3 linked regions of the Homo sapiens genome follow. The protein of the gene in region 2 purifies or fractionates together with the protein of the main gene of each other region. This does not show direct contact. Each region holds a gene or a part of one and is shown on either strand. Other genes may lie near its edges.

Region 1 (3,727 bases), on a different chromosome or scaffold from region 2:
GTCTCCAGCTCCTAACCGCGAGTGATCCGCCAGCCTCGGCCTCCCGAGGTGCCGGGATTGCAGACGGAGTCTGGTTCACTCAGTGCTCAATGGTGCCCAGGCTGGAGTGCAGTGGCGTGATCTCAGCTCGCTACAACCTCCATCTCCCAGCCGCCTGCCTTGGCCTCCCAAAGTGCCGAGATTGCAGCCTCTGCCCGGCCGCCACCCCGTCTGGGAAGTGAGGAGCGTCTCTGCCTGGCCGCCCATCGTCTGGGACGTGAGGAGCCCCTCTGCCTGGCTGCCCAGTCTGGAAAGTGAGGAGCGTCTCTGCCCCGCCGCCATCCCGTCTAGGAAGTGAGGAGCGCCTCTTCCCGGCAGCCATCCCATCTGGGAAGTGAGGAGCGTCTCTGCCCGGCCGCCCATCGTCTGAGATGTGGGGAGCGCCTCTGCCCCGCCGCCCCGTCTGGGATGTGAGGAGCGCCTCTGCCAGGCTGCGACCCCGTCTGGGAGGTGAGGAGCGTCTCTGCCCAGCCGCCCCGTCTGAGAAGTGAGGAGCCCCTCCGCCCGGCAGCTGCCCCGTCTGAGAAGTGAGGAGCCCCTCTGCCCGGCAGCCACCCCGTCTGGGAAGTGAGGAGCGTCTCCGCCCGGCAGCCGCCCCGTCCGGGAGGGAGGTGGGGGGATCAGCCTCCTGCCCGGCCAGCCGCCCCGTCCGGGAGGGAGGTGGGGGGGTCAGCCCCCCGTCCGGGAGGGAGGTGGGGGGGGTCAGTCCCCCGCCCGGCCAGCCGCCCCGTCCGGGAGGGAGGTGGGGGGGTCAGCCCCCCGCCCGGCCAGCCGCCCCGTCCGGGAGGGAGGTGGGGGGGTCAGCCCCCGCCCGGCCAGCCGCCCCGTCCGGGAGGGAGGTGGGGGGGGTCAGCCCCCCGCCCGGCCAGCCGCCCCGTCCGGGAGGTGAGGGGCGCCTCTGCCCAGCCGCCCCTACTGGGAAGCGAGGAGCCCCTCTGCCTGGCTAGCCACCCCGTCCGGGAGGGAGGTGGGGGAGTCAGCCCCCCGCCCAGCCAGCCGCCTCGTCCGGGAGGGAGGTGGGGGGGTCAACCCCCCGCCCGGCCAGCCGCCCTGTCCAGGAGGGAGGTGGGGGGGTCAGCCCCACGTCCGGGAGGGAGGTGGGGGGGGTCAGCCCCCCGCCCGGCCAGCCGCCCCGTCCGGGAGGGAGGTGAGGTCAGCCCCCTGCCCGGCCAGCCGCCCCGTCCGGGAAGTGAGGGGCGCTTCTGCCCAGCCGCCCCTACTGGGAAGTGAGGAGCCCCTCTGCCGGGCCAGCCACCCCGTCCGGGAGGGAGGTGGGGGGCTCAGCCCCCCGCCCGGCCAGCCGCCCCGTCCGGGAGGGAGGTGGGGGGATCAGCACCCCGCCCGGCCAGCCGCCCCGTCCGGGAGGTGAGGGGCGCCTCTGCCCAGCCGCCCCTACTGGGAAGTGAGGAGCCCCTCTGCCTGGCCAGCCACCCCGTCCGGGAGGGAGGTGGGGGAGTCAGCCCCCCGCCCAGCCAGCCGCCCTGTCCGGGAGGGAGGTGGGGGGTTCAGCCCCCCGCCCGGCCAGCCGCCCTGTCCGGGAGGGAGGTGGGGGGGGGGGTCAGCCCCCCGCCCGGCCAGCCGCCCCGTCCGGGATGGAGGTGGGGTCAGCCCCCCGCCCGGCCAGCCGCCCCGTCCGGGAAGTGAGGGGCGCCTCTGCCCAGCCGCCCCTACTGGGAAGTGAGGAGCCCCTCTGCCAGGCCAGCCACCCCGTCCGGGAGGGAGGTGGGGGGCTCAGCCCCCCGCCCGGCCAGCCGCCCCGTCCGGGAGGGAGGTGGGGGGGTCAGCCCCCCGCCCGGCCAGCCACCCCGTCCGGGGGGTGAGGGGCGCCTCTGCCCGGCCGCCCCTACTGGGAAGTGAGGAACCCCTCTGCCCGGCCAGCCGCCCCGTCCGGGAGGGAGGTGGGGGGGTCAGCCCCCCGCCCGGCCAGCCGCCTTGTCCAGGAGGGAGGTGGGGGGGTCAGCCCCCCGCCCGGCCAGCCGCCCCGTCCGGGAGGTGAGGGGCACCTCTGCCCGGCCGCCCCTACTAGGAAGTGAGGCGCCCCGCTGCCCGGCCAGCCGCTCCGTCCGGGAGGGAGGTGGGGGGGTCAGCCCCCTGCCCGTCCAGCCGCCCCGTCCGGGAGGTGAGGGGCGCCTCTGCCCGGCCGCCCCTACTGGGAAGTGAGGAGCCCCTCTGCCCGGCCACCACCCCGTCTGGGAGGTGTACCCAACAGCTCATTGAGAACGGGCCGGGATGACAATGGCGGTTTTGTGGAATAGAAAGGGAGGAAAGGTGGGGAAAAGATTGAGAAATCGGATGGTTGCCGTGTCTGTGTAGAAAGAAATAGACATGGGAGACTTTTCATTTTGTTCTGTACTAAGATAAATTCTTCTGCCTTGGGATCCTGTCGATCGGTGACCTTACCCCCAACCCTGTGCTCTCTGAAACATGTGCTGTGTCCACTCAGGGTTAAATGGATTAAGGGCGGTGCAAGATGTGCTTTGTTAAACAGATGCTTGAAGGCAGCATGCTCGTTAAGAATCATCACCACTCCCTAATCTCAAGTACCCAGGGACACAAACACTGCTGAAGGCCGCAGGGTCCTCTGCCTAGGAAAACCAGAGACCTTTGTTCACTTGTTTATCTGCCGACCTTCCCTCCACTATTGTCCTATGACCCTGCCAAATCCCCCTCTGCGAGAAACACCCAAGAATGATCAATAAAAAAAATAAAAATTAAAAAAAAAAAAGATTTGTTTCTTTTTCTACTTTTTGAGATGGAGTTTCATTCTTGTTGCTCGTGCAATGGCATGATCTCAGCTCACTGCAACCTCTGCCTCCCGGGTTCAAGCGATTCTCCTGCCTCAGCCTCCCGAGTAGCTGGGATTACAGGCATGTGCCACCATGCCTGGCTAATTTTTGTATTTTTAGTGGAGACGGGGTTTCACCATGTTGGTCAGGCTGGTCTAGATCTCCTGACCTCAGGTGATTGACCCACCCCGGCCTCCCAAATTGCTAGGATTACAGACATGAGCCACCATGCCCGGCCCAGAGTTTTTTCTTTTTAAAAACTTTTTATTTTGGAAAATTTCACATATACATGAAAGTAGAGAGAATAACATAAATAAATAAGGTGAGTTTTAAACATTTTTATTATGGGAAAATTTAAACTTATGCAGAAATACAGAATACTGTAACAGCATGAGTTTTTAAAGGATACTTCTTTGATTTTTAAATTTTTGTAGAGATGGGGCCTCCCTATGTTGCTCAGGCTAGTCTCAAACTCTTGGCCTCAAGCAATCCTCCAGCTTTGGCCTCCCAAAATGCTGGGATTACAGGCATGAGCCCAGCCAGAAACTTTGGTATTTAGGAAAATTTCAACCAGAAATAAGAAATAAATAGTATAAAGAACCCTGGCCGGGCGCGGTGGCTCACGCCTGTAATCCCAGCACTTTGGGAGGCCGAGGCGGGTGGATCATGAGGTCAAGAGATGGAGACCATCCTGGCCAACATGGTGAAACCCCATCTCTACTAAAAATACAAAAAATTAGTTGGGCGTGGTGGTGGGCGCCTGTAATCCCAGCTACTCGGGAGGCTGAGGCAGGAGAATCAGTTGAACCCGGGAGGCGGAGGTTGCAGTGAGCCGTGATTGCGCCACTGCTCTCCAGCCTGGCAACAGAGTGAGACTCTGTCTTAAAAAAAAAAAATAGAAA
Region 2 (3,500 bases):
TTATTTGAAGAGATGTGTGGGAGCTTATCCGCACACACCAGTTCAACTCTGGAGAGAAAAAGTAATTATCTAGTGTTTATTATTAATGTAATATTCTGTATGGATAATTCAAGTTTTAAAAAATCTCCAGAGCATCTCTTCCATGGGAGATTAATGTATATATTTTTTAAATTCTTAGCATAATTGTCTAAACCTCCATCTAAAGTCACCTTTTAACTATGTATGTACAGATTGTCTTTTACCTATTTTCAAACTGTGGTTAGCTCTTTTTTTTTAATACATCAGTGGCTTATACAATTTCATAAATTTCACATTCCAATTTCCCTATGCTTTTAAAATAATATTTTAAGAAAAATATATGTTTATCGTCAGCTGGGCATGATGGCTCATGCCTGTAATCCTAGCCCTTTGAGAGGCTGAGGTGGGAGGATCGCTTGGGGCCAGGAGTTTAAAACCAGCCTGAGCAACATAGCAAGACCCCACCTCTATAAAAAAAAATTTTAAAAAGAAAATGTATGTTTGTCAATCATTTCTTAGTTGCTGTTTTGCTAAAGAAAAGATGAAAAATTTAAAACCAAATGAGCTATATCTAAAGGTCGTCTAAAGAGTAAGAACCAAACTTTACTGAGCTGTTACTAAGAGCATCACATGCATGAGTTATTTATTAAATTCTCATTGAAAAAAATAGACTATCTTAATCAATACACTTGTGAGGGCCCTAAGGGTGTCTTTATATGATTATAAAATAACAAGGCTATTCACTAAAAATAGTCAATTTGGAGGTGGAAGTAAGAGTAGGGGCAGAGGAAACGCCAAGGACTGATAGAAATATATTAAGTTACATCACAATTGAAGAACATGGCTTTTAGCCTCAGCTTCTGACTTGGGATTTTCTCTCTGGTAGCCCTAAATTGATCTTGAGAAACTTGTTTTGGGGGAGAATTGAGTAGTAGCTGTTGAACTAGGGAGAGGATTGTCTTTTATGGGATGCACCATCCTCTCTTTGGATGGAGTTCCTCACACCTCAATTCCCATCTCATCTCATTAAGTGGATGCTAATGTAAGTTCAGTGATGAGGAGGGGTAAGAGCTGGGGAAGGAAGGCTTGTTGGTGTTTTTATGTTGTCCTCCCCTCTGCCCCCAAAATAAGCAGTTCACAACATCAAATACCTACACAAATGTGCAATTATTTATAAATATATTTTTACATACAGTAAGTTTGATACACTATAGTTAGGCCATCTAGGTATAAATAAGGAAGTAAAGGTTGGGTATTATCTGATGAACTGGGAATCTTTTCCATGGTACTTGAATCTAATCACTTTAGTGCCTGCATAGACTCAGACTGTAAAGATGTTACATTAACCAGGGTTAATATCAACTGCTGCTCTTCCCCTTCAGAGCCCTAGCCTTCCCCGATATTTATCATTCTTGAAATAAACACGATTTTAAACAGGCTATTTCTTCTTGTAATAGTGTCCTTGTCTACAATAAAATTGTGTGGTGCAATCGGAGTTAGAACATCGTAGAACTAGGGGACAACCACACAGTTGTGTTTTTTCCTTTTTTTTTTTGTTTTGTGTTTTAAATCTTAACCTGCAACAACCTAACAGTGAACTGAATGTACAAGCATGATACCTGATGCAGTTCTACAAGAATCCTAACCCTCATTAGGATCTCATTTAACAAATTCAGGAAGCTCTTTGTTAAAAAGCCTTTTTTCTTTTTTCTTTTAAGCCTGTCAAATTTAGCAGTGGGGGTTGCAAAGAGCCTTTTTTCTTAATTTAGCTCTTTTGCCTGCTCAGGAATCATTTGAAGCATGTTGTTTCAACAAACAGTTCTCTGTTTCAGCAATTGTCACTTGAAAATTTAACAGTATGAGAATGAGATGATGACAATAGTTTTTTACTGTGAAGTTTCCTTTTTAATTAATTTGAAACTTTAGAAATTTGAGATATAACTACAATTAAGAGAATCCCAAAGAGACAGAAAAAAACAAACTTTTTTTTTTTTTTTGCACAGTATCTTTCTATTTTTTGTGGAAGCCCCATTTAATTCATTTAACATGTAGCTATACCCCAATTAATTAATTCTTTTCTTTTCTTTTCTTTTTTTGAGACGGAGTTTCACTCTATCACCCGGGTTGGAGTGCAGTGGTGTGATCTCTGCTCACTGCAGCCTCCGCCTCCCGGGTTCAAGCAATTCTCCTGCCTCAGCCTCCAGAGTAGCTGGGATTACAGGCACCCGCCACCACGCCTGGCTACTTTTTTGTTGTTGTTGTTGTTGTTGTTGTTGTTGTTTGTCGTTTTTTTCTTTGAGACGGAGTCTCGCTCTGTCGCCCAGGCTGGAGTGCAGTGGCGCGATCCCGGCTCACTGCAAGCTCCGCCTCCCGGGTTCACGCCATTCTCCTGCCTCAGCCTCCCGAGTAGCTGGGACTACAGGTGCCCGCCACCACGCCCGGCTAATTTTTTTGTATTTTTTTTATTTTTAGTAGAGACGGGGTTTCACTGTGTTAGCCAGGATGGTCTCTATCTCCTAACCTCGTGATCCGCCCGCCTCGGCCTCCCAAAGTGCTGGGACTACAGGCTTAAGCCACCGCACCCGGTCTACTTTTTTGTGTTTTTAGTAGAGATGGGATTTCACTATGTTGGCCAGGCTGATCTCAAACTCTTGACCTCAGATGATCCTCCCACCTCGGCCTCCCAAAGTGCTGGAATTACAGGTGTGAGCCACATCTCTTACTCTTTCAAGCACTGGGGATACAGCAGTGAACAAAGCAAACTCCCTCGTATTGTTCACATTCCAGTTAAGGAAGACAAATAATAAATCCTTCTCATGGAAGGAGGTACATAGTAATCAGGCAAATATTTACTATATCAAGTAGAGAGAAAGTCTATTAAAATAATAATTTTTTAAAAACCAGGGCAAAGGGAATAGGAAATGACAGGACTGGGGAAAGGATGTTGCTATTTCATATTTGGTGGTCAGGAAAGTTGGCTGATGAGGTGAGACCTGCAACAAGTGAGGACGTGAGCTGCGTGGATGGAGCAGAGCTCATCAAACCAAGCTGATTGTTGGTTTGTTTTCTCAAGATTGACTGATTACTCGGAGTATAGGTTGGCAAGTAGGGTGACCAGGCTAATGACATGAAACCTAGCAAACTGATGATGGCTGAGATCAAGCTAAGGGTGGCTGTTTTAAGTGCGGAGGAATAGACAACTGAGTTCACTCAATGACATTTACTGGAGGGGCAGAGGTTATTATAAAAGTGAAAGAAAACATTACAAGGGTTTGCATTTGAGTTTTTGGGCATGAATATTTTTGGGTGTTAGTACATTAGACACACACATGATTTCCCTTTCCTCCCAAAAAATCCATTAAATGATTTTATCGGGAACTTCCATAGACATTTCCTTATGTAGGTTTAGACTCTGATTTTATTCTTTCAGATATTAAAGTCCTTCACCTTCTCTTTTCTTTCAATCATAAAAAGATGCTGGA
Region 3 (3,827 bases), on a different chromosome or scaffold from region 2:
CACCATTTTTTAAAGAGACTGTTTTTCCCCCAAAGTATGTTCTTGGCAACTTTGTCAAAAATGAGTTTACTGTAGATGTGTGGACTTGTTTCTGTGTTCTCTATTCTTTTCCATTGCTCTATGTGTCTGTTTTTATACTAGTACCATGCTGTTTTGGTTACTATAGCTTTGTAGTATAATTTGAAGTGAGGTAATGTGATTCCTCTAGTTTTGTTCTTTTTGCTTAGGATGGCTTTGGCCATCCTGCATTTTTAACCCTTTTCCCATTTTCACCCAGAATACTCGCTGGTGGCACTTGCAGCTGCAGGGTTTACCCTGAGATAACTTTGCCACAAAATATCTCGCCTTTATTATTATTTTCACATCGTTCTAATATATCGACTTTGAAAACACAAATCATCATTCTATTTATAGCATCTTGTTGTTAGCAGTGGTATTTCCATTTACAAAATATAGAAATTCTTGATCGCTGAAAATGTCAAATTCTAGAAAGCATAGCATTCCCATGTTAACATTGTTCTCAAACAGTTTTGGGCCAAAGAGTCATTTAATGAATCCGGTTTTTTCCAAAATAGATGATTCTGATTATTCAGATGATTCTGATGTTAGTTCTGTTTAAAAATAATTCCAAGAACAGTTTGTATATTTTATTTTCACACTGAACATCAGTCAGCCTCCAGAGCATGTTAATGTAAAATTAAATGAACATGGGCAGTGAGCTGCAGTTTTTTTTCTAAACAGTGCAGCTGTTTAGAAAATTTTTTTAAAATTTTCCTGATTTCCTTGGTATTAAACATATGTGGGAGAAATACAGCTCAGCAAACTCTTCCAGGAGATAAAATGCTGATCACTCCTACTGGGCAATTTCACAAATGTCTCCTATATTTTTCTCCTTTGGTAGTGGGGATGGGGGGCATAATGTTACATTGGGCCTCTCTCCTCTCTCTCTTTCTCTCTCCCTCTCCTTTTAAAATGTTTCCTCTCTCTCAATATTTCATTTCTTATTTGTATTTCTGAATGAGGGAAAAGAGTTGATGGGACAGCGGAACGGGAAAAAGAAGAGCACCAATAAAACCTGTTTTCCTGTTTTCACTATTTTCATTCCAAATTCCTTCTGTCTCATAATTGATGGAATCTTATGAACTTATTAGTTAAAAAGTGTCTTTCTTGTTTCACAGGAATTCATATCGGGGTGATCACTCAGAAGAAAAGGTGAATACCGGATGTTGTAAGCTATTGAACTGCCACAAGTGATATCTTTACACACCATTCTGCTGTCATTGGGTATGTACAAAGTGCTGCATACAGACAGAGGAGAAGGACAATTGAGCCCATCTAAAGTTAACAAAAACTTCCTCTTGGGGCTGTTTCTTTCCATCAGACCTTACAGTTCTACGGGATAATAGCTTATCTCATAAGGCCTCAGCTTTCTTTAATAATTTCTAGAAGCAGACGTTATTGTGTCATGCACACTCAGTGTTGCAAATTAATGGTCTGGTGATCTGGGTGGCATGGCATTTTCCCCTTCTCTGGTTCATCACCCATGATAGACCAGTAAAGGTGACCACTTAAATTCCTTGCTGTGCAGTGTTCTGTATTCCTCAGGACACAGAGCTTCCTCTCTCCCAGGAGCCATGAATATCCTGATGCTGACCTTCATTATCTGTGGGTTGCTAACTCGGGTGACCAAAGGTAATGGAACCCTATAAAGCAGAGATGATGACTAGGATGAGTTGTTGCCCTTGGGCTCCCCTGGTATCATGATGGGAAGAGAGGGAATCTGCAGGAAAAATCTGGGCCAACAAAGAGCAGCAGAATGCTCTTATTTTGGCAGCTCCATGCCCCTAGTCTCTGAGAATCTTTCTGTTAGGGGCATCTAGCAAGCTGGGATGTCCTCTGAGGCATTTCTCCAAAGACAAGAATTTCCTTAATGCTCTGAGCCACCCTATCTGTCTCTCTACATAACTATCCAATGTTAGTTCAGCCTCACTTCACTTCCATTTCGATTATTCTGTTGTATCTATTTCATTGTTGTGTCCTATTAGTTCTCCTACCATCTTGAATTCTTCTTTGCCCGGAGGGTACCTTCAGAGGGAGGCCCTCACTTTCATGTTCTTAGATATGGTGAACAAGTCCATTGACAGTTTGTAGATTCTGTAGCACTATCATATGGAAGAGACAATATATATGTTTGGGGTAGAAGTGGAAATAAGTGGAGTGAAGACAGGATAGACAGACTAGTGACCAATGGGGAGCTTCTAATTTTAGATGAATAGGAACAGTCTGTTTCCACTATTTAATAATGCTACTTTTGAAAATTGTTAACTTTTTATTAAAAAATAATACTTGCAATTGACTTATGTATCAAGCAATCGATGGATTTATAGGGTTTAAGGAAAAGAAAAATGTTTGTCTGTCCAAGAATACCAGTTCTTCAGTCTTCCCCTTCAGAATCAATCAATGTTACCAATTTCTTATATATCCTAGCAAATACAAATATATTTATATTTGCATGTGTATACCTTTTAGATTTTTAAAAAATGCAATTGCAAATGCACCATGTGAATTGTTCTGCAATGTACTAGCAATATATTAGAGACATCTTATCCATACATAAACCTAGTTCATTATTTTTAATCGATAAGTAAAACTTTGAGGAGGAGCAGATGAATTGCCTCACATTAATTACTCCGCTACTGATGAAAAATAGGTCTTTAATTATCAAAAACAATTCAGCAAGAAAAATTTGTAAACAAATGTATGTCTTTTCATTTATGACTGGACACGTGGACACACACACACACACACACACACACACAGTCAAACCACCTACCAGAAAAGCTGAACTATTCTTCTCTCCTATCACCAGTTGCAAGAGTGTCAGCTTCCCACACCCTCATCAGTCCTTTTTGTTTTTTCTACTACATTCAGTTTTCTACTACATTCAGTTTTACAGTCTAATATGTGAAAATGATGTCCTGATGTTTGAATTCATGACACTTTAGTTATAAATGAGTTTGAACATCCAGTCCATTAGATTTCTAAACTTTCTTAATTATCTTTATATACTAAGAAATTTGGCTTTTGTTAAATTTGGAGGTGTTATATGTTGCCTAGAAAGATGCTATTCATGTCTATTAAATGGTTATAACTGTGCCTATGATCTGTTATGTCTTGATTCACATGTTGATGTAATGTGAGTTACAGAATTAATATCTACATTCATTTCTGATTATAAACTGCTGTATTTGTTGAAAATTTGGAAATTTTGAAATTGTAAAGAAGTAAAAAAATTGTAAAGAAGTTAAAAGAGACAAAATATTTTTGATCTATTGTTCTTCCTCAGTTTTCTTATTTGAATAAAAATGTATAGCATACTTATAAATTTTCTATTATACTATTAGTATTTTCCCATTTACTATTTTCAAAAACTGTATTTCCAATGACTGTATAAATTTTATAGAATGGATACTGTTTAAATTACTTAGCCAAATTGTTTTTGCATAAATAAGTGCATTTACATTTTATAGACAAGGATGGCTAGTATAACCTTTCTTATACATAAATCATTCAGCATAAAATTCCTGGAGATGTACTTTTTTCTGTCTGCTTCATGTGTTATCAATTTTTGAATACTTGCCAAGTCCTAAAAATGAAATATTATATATAAATATTTAATTTTTATTTATGTCTGTGAGTAATGGGGAAGTCGAACTTCAAATACATGCTTAATGTATATTTAACTTTTCTACAAATTGTCTATGTCTCTCTTTCTCTTTTATTTTGGAGAGGTAGTTTTCATTTCTTTTGATTTAGAGATTTTCATT

Evidence for each region.
Region 1: the proteins of GJA1 (region 2) and DEFB124 purify together in Homo sapiens (affinity purification with mass spectrometry, with the first as the bait; one study listed by BioGRID). This does not show direct contact.
Region 3: the proteins of GJA1 (region 2) and DEFB125 purify together in Homo sapiens (affinity purification with mass spectrometry, with the first as the bait; one study listed by BioGRID). This does not show direct contact.

The regions. Positions count from the first base shown.
Region 1 is NC_000020.11:31,468,477-31,472,203, reverse strand, and holds part of DEFB124 (beta-defensin 124 precursor), read left to right. Parts: intron 1-3,727. UniProt on the Homo sapiens protein: Has antibacterial activity.
Region 2 is NC_000006.12:121,438,646-121,442,145, forward strand, and holds part of GJA1 (gap junction alpha-1 protein), read left to right. Parts: intron 1-3,500. UniProt on the Homo sapiens protein: Gap junction protein that acts as a regulator of bladder capacity. A gap junction consists of a cluster of closely packed pairs of transmembrane channels, the connexons, through which materials of low MW diffuse from one cell to a neighboring cell.
Region 3 is NC_000020.11:86,076-89,902, forward strand, and holds the start of DEFB125 (beta-defensin 125 preproprotein), read left to right. Parts: upstream 1-1,596; 5' UTR 1,597-1,634; coding exon 1,635-1,692; intron 1,693-3,827. UniProt on the Homo sapiens protein: Has antibacterial activity.